2 separate regions of the Homo sapiens genome follow, and region 2 is linked to region 1. The links come from fine-mapping of genetic effects on gene expression. Tissue or cell type: whole blood. Region 1 holds a variant in brackets; the other region holds the start of a gene. All regions are shown on one strand. Distances are from middle to middle.

Region 1 (8,110 bases):
TGCTGCAGTGAACATGTACCCTTTTGACAGAATGACTTATTTTCCTTTAGGTATTTACCCAGCAATGGGATTGCCGGGTCGAGTGGTAGTTCAACTCAGTTGTTTGAGTCATCTCCAAACTGCCTTCTGCAGTGGCTGTACTGATTTACATTCGCAACATTGTATAAAGTGTCCCCTTTACTCCCAGCCTTGCCAACATCTGTTATTTTTGACTTTTTAACAAAAGCCATTCTGACTGGTATGAGATGGTATCTCATTGTGGTTTTGATTTGCATTTCTCTGATGATTAGAGATGACGAGCATTATTTCATGTTTGTTGCTCGCTTGCATGTCTTCTTTGGAGAATTGTCTGTTTATGTCTTTTGCCCACTTTTTAATGGAGTTATTTGCCTTTTGCTTGTTGATTTGTTTAAGTTCCTTACAGATTCTGGATATTAGACCTTTGGTGAAAGACATTTTTAAAACAATAAAGTGTTGAGGTAGTGGGGCCAACAACACTATTATTTTTAATATGATATCATTTCTCACATTACCACATCCATTCCCTCATGAAATTATTCTTTTAGAGAAAAGGGAAAGGGAGGAGGTGGTAGAGCTAGAACAGCAGGAAATAAATACCCACCTCAGGACTGCAGAGCAGCAAGGCCTCAGGGCCCTGAAAAGAACGCTGAGGCCAGGTCCGGGTGGGGCAGGAAGCAGAGCAGCCTCGCCTGTGGCTCCTACTAGGTCTGTAAACTGCCAGATCTGCCCGCAAACCACCATCAGCAACCCAGAGGCGCCCCAGGAAGCACCCTGAATGCCAGGCCCAGGGGTTCCCCACAGAGGCGGGGCACCAGCCCCCACCCTCCCTATTAATGGGAGTGGTTTCCAGGTGACTCATATGAGTAAAATGCAAAAAATGAAATAGAGACCATTAACATGATTCCAAGTAAGACAAGTGCCAAGTCCCATATTGTATTCTAACTTATCTCAGGATCAGAGAAGGAAATACAAAAAGGCTTGGCTTTAGTTCTCTCAGAACCAGAGCATTTCTGTCCTTTTCTTTCTCTGTAAGAACTGTACGTGGGGCTTGCCTAAGCAGTAAGTGAAATCCCCACCTGAATGATGGCTGCCTCCATCACTAGAGATGCAAGACAGAGTCGGAGTGTTGGGCAGGCTTTTGAGGCTCATGGCTATTTTTCTCCCGGCTCTGCCAAACACCAGCTCTATGACCTTAAGCAAATCGCTTTACCTTTTGGGGCCCAGTTCCTCCGTGTCAAACATGGCAGTAAGAATAGCACCTCCTTTTGGTACTATTAGAATGCTCTGCAGTGCCCAGAGTCTTAAGCCTAGTTGGTCGTGGAGGCACTCGGTTGGCTCTCAGTGGTCTCCTCTGACCTCTTCCCCACAGGGCTGTATGTTCTGGTTGGAGCCGGGGCCCTGATGATGGCCGTGGGGTTCTTCGGGTGCTGCGGAGCCATGCGGGAGTCGCAATGTGTGCTTGGATCAGTAAGTGGGGCGAGGGGGTAAATGGTGGGGTGGGGGTGAGGGAGCGGCCTGCATCTGAAGGGAGTCAGTGCCTCTGGCCCCTGGCTCCAGCTCCTCCGTGGACTCTCTGAGCCCTTGGCATGCACTTTTCCTCCCTCAGTCTTGGTTTCTCCATCTCTTATATATGAATAATACTAACTAGGGCCGGGTGCCATGACTCACGCCTGTAATCCCAGCACTTTGGGAGGCTGAGGCAGGAGGATCTCTGGAGCCCAGGAGTTTAAGACTAGCTTGGGCAACACAGGGAGACCTAGTCTCTACCGGGTGTGATGGCACACACCTGTGGTCCCAGCTACTCAGGAGGCTGAGGCAGGAGGATCACTTAAGACCAGGAGTTGGGAGGCTGCAGTGAGCCATGACTGTACCACTGCACTCCAACCTGGGCGACAGAGCAAAACCTTGTCTTGAAAAAAGAAAAAAGAAAAAAAATATTATCTTTGTTCCTGCCTTATATGGGAAGTGTGAAAAGAAATGACGTCATTGGTGTAAAGATGTTTTGGGAGTAAAAGTACTTAGTAATTGTAAGGGGTGACTATGATTGTTCTTTAAAAAAAAATATTTCACAGTGGGTGAGGCAGCTAAAAGGTTTCTATAGCCAGGGAAGTGCTGTTATCTACAAGGAAAACATTTATGTTTGAGATCAATAACTTAACCAAAATCCCTCTTGTGGCTTATTTTAACAAGCAACCTCTGTTTAAAACAAAAATCAAATAATTTCAATTAACTGCTATACATTCTATGTCAGTGTAGCCTGAGAGAAACAGAAAGGAAGAAGAGGGGCAGGAGGAGAGAAAGTGTTGATATTTCTCCACAGGGAGTCAGAAACAGCAGTTTTAATAGGCAGCCTCTCATCTCTCATTACTTATTGTGATATTTGGATTTTTAACTCTGGCCGTAGCCTCTGATCTCTTGCTATGTGAAATGTCTGACTTATTTCTTTGCCATTCATTCCTTCTCTTTCTCCTACTGTTGAGCACATTTCTGTCTTGTTTATCACTGAACTTAGTTTGATCAGAGCAAATCCATAGACCAGAACAGAAATCCATCCAGAAGGACACCCCTCACCTCATCTCCTCAAAGAAGCCTTTCCAGACCACAGAATCTCCAGTCACCCCCTTCCCCATGCCCAGGCCGCATCAGTGATGCTCCCTCTCCTGACCTTATTTTATATCTTTCTAGGTCTTTTGTGTTCGTCAAGTATTTACTAAGCACGTAGGTGCCAGGTGGTGTTCTAGGTGGTGGGATTTTTACATCACTACCTGAACTTATCTTATTCACTTTTTAACTTCTTTACACAGTTATCGTATATTCCTCTGTCCAATCCAAGGTCCGTGATAACAGAGACATTTGGATATTATCTTGTTCACCACTGAATAGTCAGCACCAAGGACAGTACCTGGTGCAGAATAAATGCCTAATAAACAATTGCTGAATGAATGAATGAATGAATGAACCACATGAAAGCGATTCAGCCATTACATAAGGAAACTAAGGTGCAAAATATATAAATTGAAAAGGTATTAAATTAATGAAATTAGTATTTTCTCTCCTCTACAGTTTTTTACCTGCCTCCTGGTGATATTTGCTGCTGAAGTAACCACTGGAGTATTTGCTTTTATAGGCAAGGGGGTAGTAAGTAAAATTACTTATAATGTTTTTCTATGATGGTTAAAAGTGTTAGAATATTGATACCCACAATAGTGTTAAGAAACCAAATAATCCCCATTATTATAGTTTAAACAGAACTTTTTAACTTAGAAGTGGTGTGCAGAACTGAGCATATATGTATATGAGTGTGCAGGCATATATACATGCTCACATTTTTCTGGGGAGATAGTTCATCTCTTCCATTAGACTTATGAAGTGGTCTATAATAAAACCAAAAAAAAAAGGATCTCTAATTTAAGATTCTTCCCCATTGTGAAATGGGGTAACAGTTAGAGTACAGACTTGAGAAAGAATCTAGATTCTCATCCCCTGTCAGACTGCCATTTGTCCTTAAGGATTGGCCTGGATGGGTCCATTTCATTCTCAAAGAGCAGAGCCTACACTGCTGTGGGCTAGTGAAGCCAGTTTATATTTGCTGCCCAACTCTAGGTGTCCAGAATAG[G/C]TTATCGGGGGGACACACAGAGGAAGTAGCCTTTCTTCCTCTGTAAAACACACTGTGGGATAGAAGAGAATGGAATGGAAAAGGAGGAAGAATGGAAACTTAAGTTTGGTGTATTTCACATTAACTCTTGTGTCATTAATATTATGTTTCTGAACTTATTTTAGACTATAAAACAGTAAACATGTAGAATAGTAAATGTCACCTCCTTTTGAATTTTTCTAAAGTAACTGGCTGTGTTCATAGGTTAGTTTAAATTCAGCTACATACAGAAGTAGAATGGAATCTTAGGACCTGTTGAGATATCTGTGGATTTGAAATCACAAGCTTTTATACTAGAAAAAGCATTCTCTAAGCTTTATATGATATCTGAATGTAGAAAGTTTTCCTTGGTGATGAATACCTTTTAAACCACGTCATAAAAAGATTTGAATGCTTTTAACCAATGGGGTAACAGGAATGTATAAGTCCGGATCCTAGCTATGCATCCAAATCATCTGGATGGAGCCCAGGAATCTGGGGCCCAGTTGATGCTGAAGCCCAGTTGGGCTTGGGAACTGTCAGAAATCTTTCTAGTCCATGAAAACTGTTCTGGTTAGTCTGTCCTTCCATCCTCAAAAGCATCTTAGAAACTCCAGAAACTATAATCTTCTCCATATGTTGCTGAATTATCCTAAAATACCTATGGAAAGGCAGTATTTTTTTTTATTTCTACAGGTTTTGTGGGGAACAGGTGGTGTTTGGTTACATGAGTAAGTTCTCTAGTGGGGATTTCTGAGATTTTGGTGCACCCATCACCCGAGCAGTGTACACTGTACCCAATGTGCAGTCTTTTATCCCTCACCTCACTCCTACCCTTTCCCCTGAGTCCCCAAAGTCCATTGTATCATTCTTATGAGAAAGGCAGTGTTTTTCAAAGGTGTGGAAGAGGAGATTTTCCTTGATGAAAGGAGAATGTTTGAAACTTCCCACCCAGAAGTCCTTCATTTTTCCTTGTATTTCTTCAGGCTATCCGACATGTTCAGACCATGTATGAAGAGGCTTACAATGATTACCTTAAAGACAGGGGAAAAGGCAATGGGACACTCATCACCTTCCACTCAACAGTGAGTAACTTCACTTCTTCCTTAAAATCACAGCTTCTAAAGATTATGTGTGAGCCAGGTTCTCACCAATCACCAGGATTAAAAATAAAAATAAATTCAGTAAAGCCAAGTAGCACCACCTATTTTAGCCCTTTTGAGGGCCACAGTTTGCATTATGTGTGGAACCCTAGAAGGGAAAGATGTCTATCACACAGAGTTCACAAGAGAGACAGAAGAGCATGAACCCAAAAGACACATGCCCCAAAGAGACAAAAGAGCACAAACAAGGTTACAGAGAAAGGAGCCCAGATAAATAGCAGGCTTTGTCAGAGGGTAGCATTGTGGTGTAACAGAAACAAGTGTGACCTGTAAGTCAGAAAAGCTAATTTCTAGCTGCAGCTCTACCATTCAACAGCCTTGTGACCTTGAGCAAGTTACTTGGCCTCCCTGATACCCACGCAGCTCCCTCATTTGTAGAATGAAGGGTCACAGGAGATGGCTACACTCCCTTCTGGAACATTCAGTGGGACTGTGCTGTCCGTGGAGTGCTCAGAGCTACATGCAGTTAATCACAGAAGGCTTACAGAGGAGATGGGCCAGGCCAGAGTTATTCTGATTTTTTAGACACTGTGATATGAAGAAGTAGCTGTGAATTCCTGGGCCAGGTGTTTTCAGGTACCTAGTTCTTGTCTAGGACAAGTATGTCTTGGAAAGTGGCCACCATTTATACATTTATACGGTTTCACCTCAGCTGCCGCCAGGACCTGAAGCAGCACACAGGTTCTTTTGTCTTAAAGGGCCAGCTAGCCTAAGCAGGACACCTGTTTGCTGGCCAATCTTCAAATCTGGTCTTTTGGACCCTGGAATTTCCTGCAGCCACTTCTCCCCTCTTCCCCAGACTATTCCCAGCTAATGAGTCCTTCTGCAGCTCATAAAACTTGAGCTCCTCAGCAGGTTAAATGACTCCCAGTCTGAAAGAAGGAATCTAAAGCCCCAACCCCTTTCTAAAAAGTAGCAATTTACACAGACACTGTCAATTAGCTTCTTGCCTTGTTTGGGTTGCCTTGAGTCACTTCCCATCATAAACTCAGATGGCTTTAGCGAAGTCATTTTCTTGTTTTGCCAGCATGATTATGTGATTCTTCACTCTCCTTCCAGAAATAGCAGTCTGGGTTGCAGTGACTGGGCCTCGGAGCTGCTTTGCCGCCTCGGCACCCCAGTCCTTAGCAGGGTGCCCAGACTTGTAGCTGCTACTCCTCCCGCCTGGTCCTGAAGTCTCTTTTCTGACTCTCTAGTTTCAGTGCTGTGGAAAAGAAAGCTCCGAACAGGTCCAACCTACATGCCCAAAGGAGCTTCTAGGACACAAGGTAAGCTTCTACCAAGGTTCTTACTCTACCTGTAGTATCATGCTGCTAGCTTAGGAAGCCATTGAAGGTAGAATCTCGGATGGGATCTGCATTTTACTGAATTTGCTCTAGTGGCAGCATAGAGGATTGATGGAAAATGAATAGCGTTGAGCTGAGAGACCCATTGGGAAGGCTGCTGTCCTTGTTGTTAGCAAGAGATGTTAAAGAGGGCCCTTTAGAAAGTGACAACTACAGGAGTGGTGACCAGAGAAGAGAGGAGAATCCATTACTGGGTTTTTGGCTTCACCACCTACATAGATGATGGTGTCATTTATGGAGCTGAGGGAGAGAGGAAAAGGAGCCAATTGTGGAGAAAAGAAAATGAGCTTTGTGTTTAACATGGTGATTTTGAGGAGCCAGTGGCACTTCCAAATGGAAATATCCAGTAGGCAGTTGGAAAATCTGGTTTGTGGCTCAGGAGAGAGGTCTGAGTGTCAGCACTTGATGGGAAACTTAAAGCTATAAATACGGATTTGATCCATTAGACTTGGAAGAAAAGAAGGATGAGGATAGATCCTTGGGGGACAATTTAAGGGTGGGCAAAAGAAGAGATGCCAAAGAAGGAAACTGGGAGGGGCGGCCAGACACAAGTGAGGAGACAGCACGGGAAGGGGAGGGAATGGTCACCAGGCCCAGGTGCTGCTGTTGAGGGCAATTCAGTATTGATCAGCTGCCTACCTTATGTTCGGCACTGTGGATGCAAAGGAGAAGGAGAAAAAGTTCCTACTCACAAGGAGCTTGCATTGCAGTCTGATAGGAGGGATGAACATGAAGTCCATACGGTCCAGTGATTAGGAATGCATGGAATGTGCAACGTGCTCGGAAAGCACAGAGGGAAACGCACTTAGGAGAGGCGAGAGGCTGGGGGATGGGGAAGGCTGACAGAGGTAATGATGTCTCAGCTAAATCTTCAAGAATGGAAAGTAATTATGCAAGCATTGGGCAGAAAGCGGGAGGGGGAGGCCTGCGTGCCGAGAGACCAGCGTAAGCAACAACACAGAGGCAGAAATGACATGGTTTGTGTGGGGAACTGAAAGCCTAAGAAGGTCTACTAATAACTGCTGAAAAGCTGGCAGGATTTAGCATGCAAGGAACCAACTGGTGACGTGCTGTGAGGGATGGATTGAGGACAGAGCCCAGGTTTCAGAGAGCGAGATGTGAGGAGAGAGAGCATCCTTTCAAGAAGTTTCGATTTGAGCCAAGGACACAGAAAGAAAGTTTACAAAAGTCAAAGTCCAAATTACCATTAAACATATAGAAAATATAGAAAATTAAAAGTAATATTTAAAATCAATAGCAAATTAAAATGAAGAGATGCTGTTGTTTAATCTATGAAATTGACCAAGTGTTTTTCCTTTCCCTTAACAATAATACACAGTTTTGGTAAACGTGATGTCGTGAGCATTTTCAGAGAAATTAGTAAATAGTTTTAAAGGTCAGTATGACTATGTAAGACTAGAGGATTAAGTATGTTTATGCCCTTCTATCCAGAAATTCCACTTCTCGGAGTTTATTCTAAGGAAAAGGAATCAGAAATGCAGACAGACGTTTTTGTGCAAATCATGCTCATTACATGTTATTCATAAGAACAAAACACTGGACAGACCCTTAATATGTGGCAATAGGGGATTGTTTGGATAAATTGTAGTATATTCATATGATGAAATGTTTTACCACCATTAAGAATCATGATTTCACCTGTAATCCTAGCACTTAGGGAGGCAGAGGCAGGCAGATTGCCTGAGCTCAGGAGTTTAAGACCACCCTGGGCAACATGGTGAAATCCCGTCTACTAAAAATACAAAAATTAGCCAGGCGTGGTGGCATGTGCCTGTGATCCCAGCTACTCAGAAAGCTGAGGCAGGAGAATCACTTGAACCTGGGAGGCAGAGGTTGCAGTGAGCCGAGATCGCGCCACTGCACTACAGCCTGGGTGAGAGAGCGAGACTCTGTCTCCAAAAAAAAAAATAATCATCATAATCATG
Region 2 (8,110 bases), 30 kb before region 1:
CAGAACAGTGTTTGCCTTTAGGAGGGATGTGGGCATAGATTGACTGGGAAGGGTTATATGAAAGCCTGAAAGCTTCCTGGGGTGACAGTAATATTCTATATCTTAATAGGATTCGGGGTTAGAAAGGCAAAAGCATTGTCAAGAATTATTAAATAATATACTTAAAATGTGTACATTTCATTGGGGTAAATTTTAGAAAAATAGTAAATAGATATTTGAACTCTAGGTAATGTTATGCATGCTCAAGAGTTTAGGAGTGAAACATACTGCCTACAATTTATTTGGAAATAAATAAAAAAAAATAGATTGAGAAATGGACAGATGTATAGATAAGTAATGCAACCAAAGCAAAATGTTTATTGTAGCATCTAGATGGTGAGTATATGGTGCTCCTTGCCCAACTATTTCAAATTTTTTGTACGTTTGAAAATATTCATAATAAAATATTGGGAAAAAATGCAAGAGAAAATATTTTTGTAACTATTTTAGGGCATGTGTGGGCAACAGTTTTAAGACCACTGGCTTCTATTTATCACCATTTGCTGAAGAATCTTTACCCTAAACTTACCATCCAAACCTTTCTCCAGAATCCAATCATATTTCCACATCATCTGGATTTCCCACCATATCTAAAACTCAGCAGATCCAAAAATGAATGTATTGTCTTCCCTCTACCAGTCAGGAATATCTTTAGCTACATGTAACAACACAAAGTCAAACAAAAAGAGGGTTATTTTTCCTATATAATAAGAAATGTGGAGTTAGGTAGCTGCTGGTATTGGTTCAGCAGTTCCACAATGTCCTAGCTGGAAGGTCTGCAATTGTCTTGCCCTTTCTTCATAGTCACAAAATGTTCTAGCACTTCAAGCATCATGTCTGAGTTCAAGACAGGAAAAAGAGAAAAGGGAGCAATGCCAGTGACAGTTTAAAGGCTAACTTCCTTATTATGTCATTTAATGTAGCCCTGTACTTTCTTATAGTAATATACCCTTGAAAATGTATGGAATGCCTTTCAGGCACAATACATACATATATGTTGATGATGGCAATTCCTCATGTTGGAAGTGGGACCTTGTGTGAGGTATTGGATCGGAGTGGATCCTTCATGAATGGCTGGATGCCATCCTCCCTATAATGAGTGAGTTCTTGCTCTGAGTTCACATGTGATATCTGGTTGTTTAAAAGAGTGTGGAACTCCCCACTTCTTTTGCTCCCACTCTCGCTGTGTACACACTGGCTCCCTGTGACCTTCCACCACAACTGAAAGCTTCCTGAGGCCTCACCAGAAGCAGATGTCAGCACTATGCTTCCTGTACAGCCTGCATAACTGTGAGCCAATTAAATCTCTTTTCTTTAGAGATTACCCAGTCTCAGGTACTACTTTGTAGCAACACAAGAATGGACTAACACACATGCGTCCACACACATACACATACATGTACACAAAAACCTAAACCTCAATTGGCTTCAGAAATGGCTAACTCAGTTATGGCGTAATATCACCTATGACTCTGGTTTTTTCAACTTCCTGCTTTGCTGTTTTCAATGTTGGATCTCTCCTCAGGCTGGTATGAAGATGGATATAGCAACTCTATGTATACCATCCAGATCCAACAGCTTCAAGAGGAAGAAGACCATCTGGCCCCTCAGTAGACACCACTCCCATCCCATTAGTCAGGATGCTTGTCAATTTGTTTCCTGAACTAACTACAAGGGAAATGGGATTACCTTCGCCTATTCCTCTCAAGGGTCAGCTTCCCTTAAGACATACAACTTTGTGAAAGGGCGACTGGGCAAGTCTATACTAAAGATCTGAAACTGTTATGTTGGACAGGCAACCACCATCTGTCTCTAATACATGTGTGCTAAAATCGTAGCATGAAAAAAACAAACAATAGATGTATATGTTACAATAGGGGTTCTCTTCCCTCTATATAATCTCTAGACATATTTTGTCTTAGAGATGTAAAATTCAACGATATATTTAAAGTATAATATCATTGTTCATTCAGTTGATTTACTGAACGCCTTCTATGTACCAGACACTACTCTTTAACTTAGTTCTTTTCCTTTATACTAAAACAGAGGTGACAGATATAGAACTATAAGTGTTTGATTGAAGCTAATGATTCACTTCTCTCTGCATACCTAATGACTTCCATCTTTGTCTTTATTTCATTGTTGGAGACATGTTTATTACTAGAATCAGCACTTTCATTTTTCTGTCTTTGACTCGTTTTTATAAATGAGTCGATATTCAAACAAATGTCCAAAGACACAGAGGTAGGCAAAGATGGCAACATGGTAGAAACTGAATGGTTGACTGATAAGAGTGTGATACAATAATACTAACCCTTATGCAGTACTTAATCTGTGCCAGGCACTGTTCTAGGCACTTCACAAATACTAACTCATTTATCTTCACAACTCTATGAGGGGAGTACTATTACCTCCATGTTGCACGTGGGGACACTCGGGGCCAATGACAGTTTGGCACATTGGTCAGCCGACTGAAAGCTGTGATTTGGCTCCTGCCTTCCTGACTCACTCTGCCCCCACCAGGCTTCACTCGGGCTAACTGCGGTTCTCAGAACTCCCTTGGAGGCCTTGTTCTCTCCAGCTCTGTGCTTTTGCGCATGCTGTCTTCCTGGACTGATCTTTTCCGCCTGGGCTCCGTCTTCTAGACCAGATCAGGCCCCTCTCCTTAGCAATGCCTTTTCTGGTTAAGGCAGTCAGGCCAGGCACACCTGTCTAGCACCCAGCCCTTCTCTCCTCACCCTATTTGCTTACAGATCTGTCTCCAACACCAGAGACTGTGGTTCTGGGCCTGGCTGTCTCCTCATTGTTGAGTCCCTGGGGCTTGCTACTATGTCTGGCCTATAATAGGCACTCAAAGTTTTGCTGAATTTATGCATAAGCTCTCCGAATTTTGCTTTCTTGTCTCCCCCATACTGTCTGACACCACATATTGTAGACACTTAGTCAATGGAAGTGGGAGTCTGATTTTCCTGCCAACAGCCTAACTTAATAAAAACAAAGCAAAACAAAAACCGCCCCCTTCCCCTTTCTCCCATCTCCACATCATAATTAAGATCCCGAAAATTTGGGATCCTTCCAAGCCCTCCGATCAGTGGAACCCGGCAGGACATGAGAAGTCAGACTCCCTCCACTGGCCGGCTGGGTTGAGGGCAGCCCACAGGACTCAGGGCGCCGCCTCCCGCACCCTCTCTCAGTTCTTGCCTATTAAGGTAAGAGTCCCCCGAGGAGGGGGGAGGGGCCGGAGGGAGGGTCCCCTAGAAGCTGCTTGTGTGCTTGCTCCGCGCCGCGGAGCCGCAGCCCTGGACACTCAGTCAGGTGCCCCGCGACTGGTCCTGCCAGCTTCGGGGCAACCTCCGACCCCACTTAGCTCTTCTACCCGAGGTCACCTTCCTAGATTTCCATAGCCACGAGACCAAGTGCTTATCCCTCAAGCATCGCCCGGGCCTCAAACCGGTCTCCGCACAGGGCGCTGATTAAATGGGTCCCCAGTCCCCGGTGGGCGCTCCCGCCCTGCAGGTGCTCCGATAGCCGGCGGCGGTGCGCCCACTGGAGGGAAGGAAGGTGGTCCCTGGGTCCGGGAGAAGAGCGAACGTGCTCCCTCGGGCTGCTCGATCTCCACCCGCTGGCGCCCCCACCCGTCGCCAGCCACGCCGCTTGGGGTCCACGCGCCCCTCCCCGCCGGGCCCCGCCCCGCCCCCCGGAGGCCCCGCCCCGGTCCTCCCCGCTCCGCCCCCTCCCCGCCGGAGCCTGCCGCTCCCCGCGCTCGTAGCGCGGGCCTGGGGACTGGGGATCCCGCCGCCGGGCCGCAGCATGGGGCGCTTCCGCGGGGGCCTGCGGTGCATCAAGTACCTGCTGCTTGGCTTCAACCTGCTCTTCTGGGTGAGACCAGGAGCCGGGAGGGCCGGTCAGGGCAGGGGGCCGGGTGGCGGGCGCGGGGCCGGGGTCCCCGAGCTGCTGACTGCGGCGTCCGAGTCGCGCTCGTGGGGAGGGCTGGGTGCTCAAACGCGGAGGCGAGGAGAAGGCAAACAAAGAGGGAGGGGAGGGATGGAAGGGAGAGAACGGGAAGACAGAAGGTTGATCAATGAGAAATGGTGAGAAGGGGAGAGACACCGTGTGGCTCTTTCCTGGAAGGAACCCCCACCTGCCTTGGTTTTTATCTCCCAGCTAGTGACCCCAGGTGCGGGGACCCAGCCTCTCCTCACCTCCGGAGGACTTGGGTCCCTGTTCCCCTCCAGTCTCCCGTGCACACACCCCCTTTTCACTCTGCCTACCAGCTGGAACCAGGGCCTGGCCAGGGTGATGGGAGAGAAACCCCTGCCCTGGGGCTGCCTGGGGTGGTGCTCCATTCGAGTGTGTGGACACTGTACCTGGCTGTGATGGTTTTGTTTAGGAAATTGGAGATAGGAGTGAAAATTGTGGTGGGGGGGCGTCGTCCTTTTTCTGGGCATCAGGGTAAGAGTACCCCTGGGTGAGAGGAGGTGGTGGGTTCTCTTCTGAGAAGGGGATGGGGAATGGAAGGGCTTCTAAAGGGCAGCAGCAGCTCTCCACAACCCCCAGCCGCAGCCTCTGCTAAATACTAATTCTCCCAGAGATGATCTCATTCAACTTTGCAGGGTTTGATTGAACTGACAGCGTTCCCAGGATTCATGGTTCACAGAGAGATAGGATCTTGACCCTTGTCTCCTATATTATCGAGACAGGGATACAGCTAGACCAGACCTACATCCCTGGATACCCTGTCCCAGGGCCTGCAGGACTGTGAGACAAGGTCTGAAAATTGTCTTTTCTGCACATTTCCTCTTGGGCTTTCTTAAGAGAATGTCAGCCAGTGTAACTGCTCAGCTAGACCCTGAGGGGAAACATTGGATAAAGAGGTTTGAGAGCAGCCAGGGCCTGGGTGCTTTGAAACTACCAGGTTGGAGGAGGTGGCTGTCCTATCTGCTCTGGGGGACGTTGTCTTCCCATGATTGCAACTAATTAATTATTGAATGATGGGCTCCTCTTTTGTCTGTCAATCCATTAGCCCAGATGCCTGGGTGACTTCAGCAACTCCAAGCTCTTCAGTATCCTTCAGCAGTGGAAGGTGTGAAGGAGGTACCTCCTCGACATCCCCTGAACTTTAAAGAGACACATGGCCTTTGTACACGTGGGGATTTACATCAAGCATACTATAGGGAGAGGCGTTTCTGAAGACCCTTTATGTTGTATTTTTTAGGAATCTGGCTTAATTTCAGAAGCTGTTAATTATAGATGTCACGCCACAGTGACAACCTTCATTCTCACTGCTTATGAATTCAAAGCCTTATGAAGTTTTAAGCCTGAGGAGGAATTCTTAAGCTGGGTTCAGTGCTTATTTAGTGGCTGATATTGTACCAGCCTTTCCAGTGATAGCTGGAAGGATTCATTGAATGTTTTCAATGTGTCAGGGACAGTGCTAAGCATATTACTTTCATTATTACACATAATCCTCACAAGAGTCCTGATATACATATACTATTATTATCCCCATTTTTTACAGATGAGGAAACAGGCTCAAATTGGTTAAGTCACCTAAGATCACACAGCTAGTGAGTGGCAGGGATGGTATTCAAACTCAGCCTACCTTCTCTTTTTTTTTTTTTTTTTTTGAGACGGAGTCTCACTCTGTAGCCCAGGCTGGAGTGCAGTGGCCCGATCTCCACTCACTGCAAGCTCCACCTCCCAGATGCACGCCATTCTCCTGCCTCAGCCGCCCAAATAGCTGGGACTACAAGCACCCTCCGCCACGTCTGGCTAGTTTTTTTGTATTTTTAGTACAGACGGGATTTTACCGTGTTAGCCAGGATGGTCTCCATCTTCTGACCTCATGATCTGCCTGCCTCAGCCTCCCAAAGTGCTGAGATTACAGGCGTGAGCCACCGCGCCTGGCCGCCTACCTTCTCTTAAGCACTGTGGTACATTCAATTAACCAGTGGTTCTCAAAAGTGGTTCCTGGGCCAGCAGCATCAGCATATCCTGGGAATTTGTCAGAAATACAAATTCTCAGGCCGGGCACAGTGGCTCATGCCTGTAATCCCAGCACTTTAGGAGGCCAAGGCAGGCGGATCACCTGAGGTCAGGAGTTCGAGACCAGCCTGGCCAACATGATGAAACCTCATCTCTACTAAAGTACAAAAATTAGCCGGGCATGGTGGTGGGTGCCTGTAATCCCAGCTACTTGGGAGGCTGAAGCAGAAGAATCTCTTGAACCCGGGAGGCAGAGGTTGCAGTGAGCTGAGATGGTGCCACATTGCACTCCAGCCTGGGCAACAAGAGCGAAACTCCATCTCAAAAACAAACAAACAAACAAACAAAATTCTCAGCTCATCCCAGACTTGCTGAATCAGAAACTCTGGGGGTAGGATCCAGCAATCTAATTTAACAAGCCATTCACATAATTCTGATCCATGCTCAAATTTGAGACCCATTCTGTTAAACAATGATTAAACAAATAATAATTTATAAATATAAACACAGTTCCCTAAGCTGCTCATCTCATTGAGGAAACGAGACCAGTGGATATGGAACAACACAAAAATAAGACAGTGTGGAATCAAGTGACAAGTTTCACACTGTTGACCGTAAGCACAGTAAGGAAAGGAAGTAGGAGCAGTGCAGTTTTAAGTGCTTGAATGTGTTAACCAGTGAGGTTAGATCCGACCTTCTCTATATGTGATCTAAGTAAGGAGTTTAGAGAAAGGATCACAGTCATGATGAGGAGCCAGAAAAGTTCTCCTTAAGAAGGAGCTATTCGAGCTAAACCTGGAAGGACTGGTAGAATGGAGCTGGGCAAAGCGAGGGGGTGACGCACCATCCACCAGCAGAGGAGCAGAGCAAGGGGGAGTGTGCGCCACCATCTGACTGTCGAAGCCATCAGGCTGGAGTGCAGAGATCCCAAGCAGGGCGTGCCTGCACAAACAGGGTGTACTTGAGCAAGTTATTGTTACTTCTAGGCTTGTTTTCTCATCTGTGCTATTGGAGTAACAGAAATATTGAGAGGATTAAGAGGGAATATATAAAGTATGTGACCTCAACTTCCTATGAGCCTAGGACATAGTAAATGCTCAAAAATATTAATTATTATTTTTGTTATCGGCACATAGGAAGCATTCAATAAATGTTAGCTCTCTTTCTCCTGATTCCTTTCTTGGTGGGGAATAGTATATAAGTTTGCCAAGTGACTTGCCATTTGTCTTCATTTGAGGATAACTACACCTTATCTTGTCAATTTGTACTTGTGGATTTTCCCCACTAGAACTTAAAACACTCTGAGAGCAGGAATTTTGTTTTTTCTGTTTTGCTCATAGCTGTATCCCCAGTGCTAGAATAGTGCCTAGCATATAGAAGGCATGCAGTAGGACATGAAGGACCTTCCTCTCCCCCAGTTTCATGGGGGGTGGGGGTGGAGGCAGCAACTAGAGCGAAGAGGCAACTGAAACAGGCACCTCATGACTTAAGGGAAAGTGTGGGATAAAGTATCTAGATATCTGCCTTCACTGTAACTGAGGGAACCTGATTCCAGAAAAGCCCCACTCAAGTTTCTAAAGTTGTTTTTTTGTGGTTGGAGGGCTTCGTGGGAAGTTTGGGAAAGGGGTGGGGGATAGTTTTCCTAGAAGGCCAGACTTTAGCTGTGACTGAAGTATAAATTTACACACACCCTTAGAAGCTCATGTGCCTGCCCCTCGGAGTTACGGGGTTCCTTGGGTGACAGCACTTCCTTCCAATCAGAACCTCGCCAGAAGTAAGCATAGAGGTGGGACAGGTTCTGTTTGGTGATCTGCGATTTAACAGATCAATTTGCAGCCTCCTCTGGCAGCTTGCTTTAAGTTTCCCTAGGCTGTGCTCCTGGTTTCATAAACATACAACCAGGCCCTGCCAGAGCCAGCACAGTATTCCCTGGCCCAGGGCCGCTGACTGTACTCACCACTGAATTTTTAAAAACAAAATAAAGCCTAGCCATTAACCCCACTACATTAATTTCTCTTATCGTGGTTGATGTCAAATGTGAAACCCCTCCCAACATCTGTCATGTCTAAATTCAGACCTGCGATCA

What was found. PIP is the estimated chance that this variant, and not a neighbour inherited with it, causes the effect.
Region 2: TSPAN2 starts here. The variant in region 1 is fine-mapped to the expression of TSPAN2 in whole blood (TOPMed, PIP above 0.99).

Annotation. Positions count from the first base shown.
Region 1 is chr1:115,055,513-115,063,622 of GRCh38, reverse strand. TSPAN2 (tetraspanin 2) reads left to right here. Exons shown (of 8, transcript NM_005725.6): 3 at 1,391-1,488; 4 at 3,085-3,159; 5 at 4,642-4,740; 6 at 6,015-6,086. Among named protein-coding and RNA genes, the nearest start is that of TSHB, 30 kb to the right of the region's middle. RefSeq lists an enhancer at 768-1,291. The variant G/C (reference allele first, on the strand shown) is at 3,638.
Region 2 is chr1:115,085,172-115,093,281 of GRCh38, reverse strand. TSPAN2 (tetraspanin 2) reads left to right here and starts at 3,779. Exons shown (of 8, transcript NM_005725.6): 1 at 3,779-3,918. The coding sequence starts at 3,850.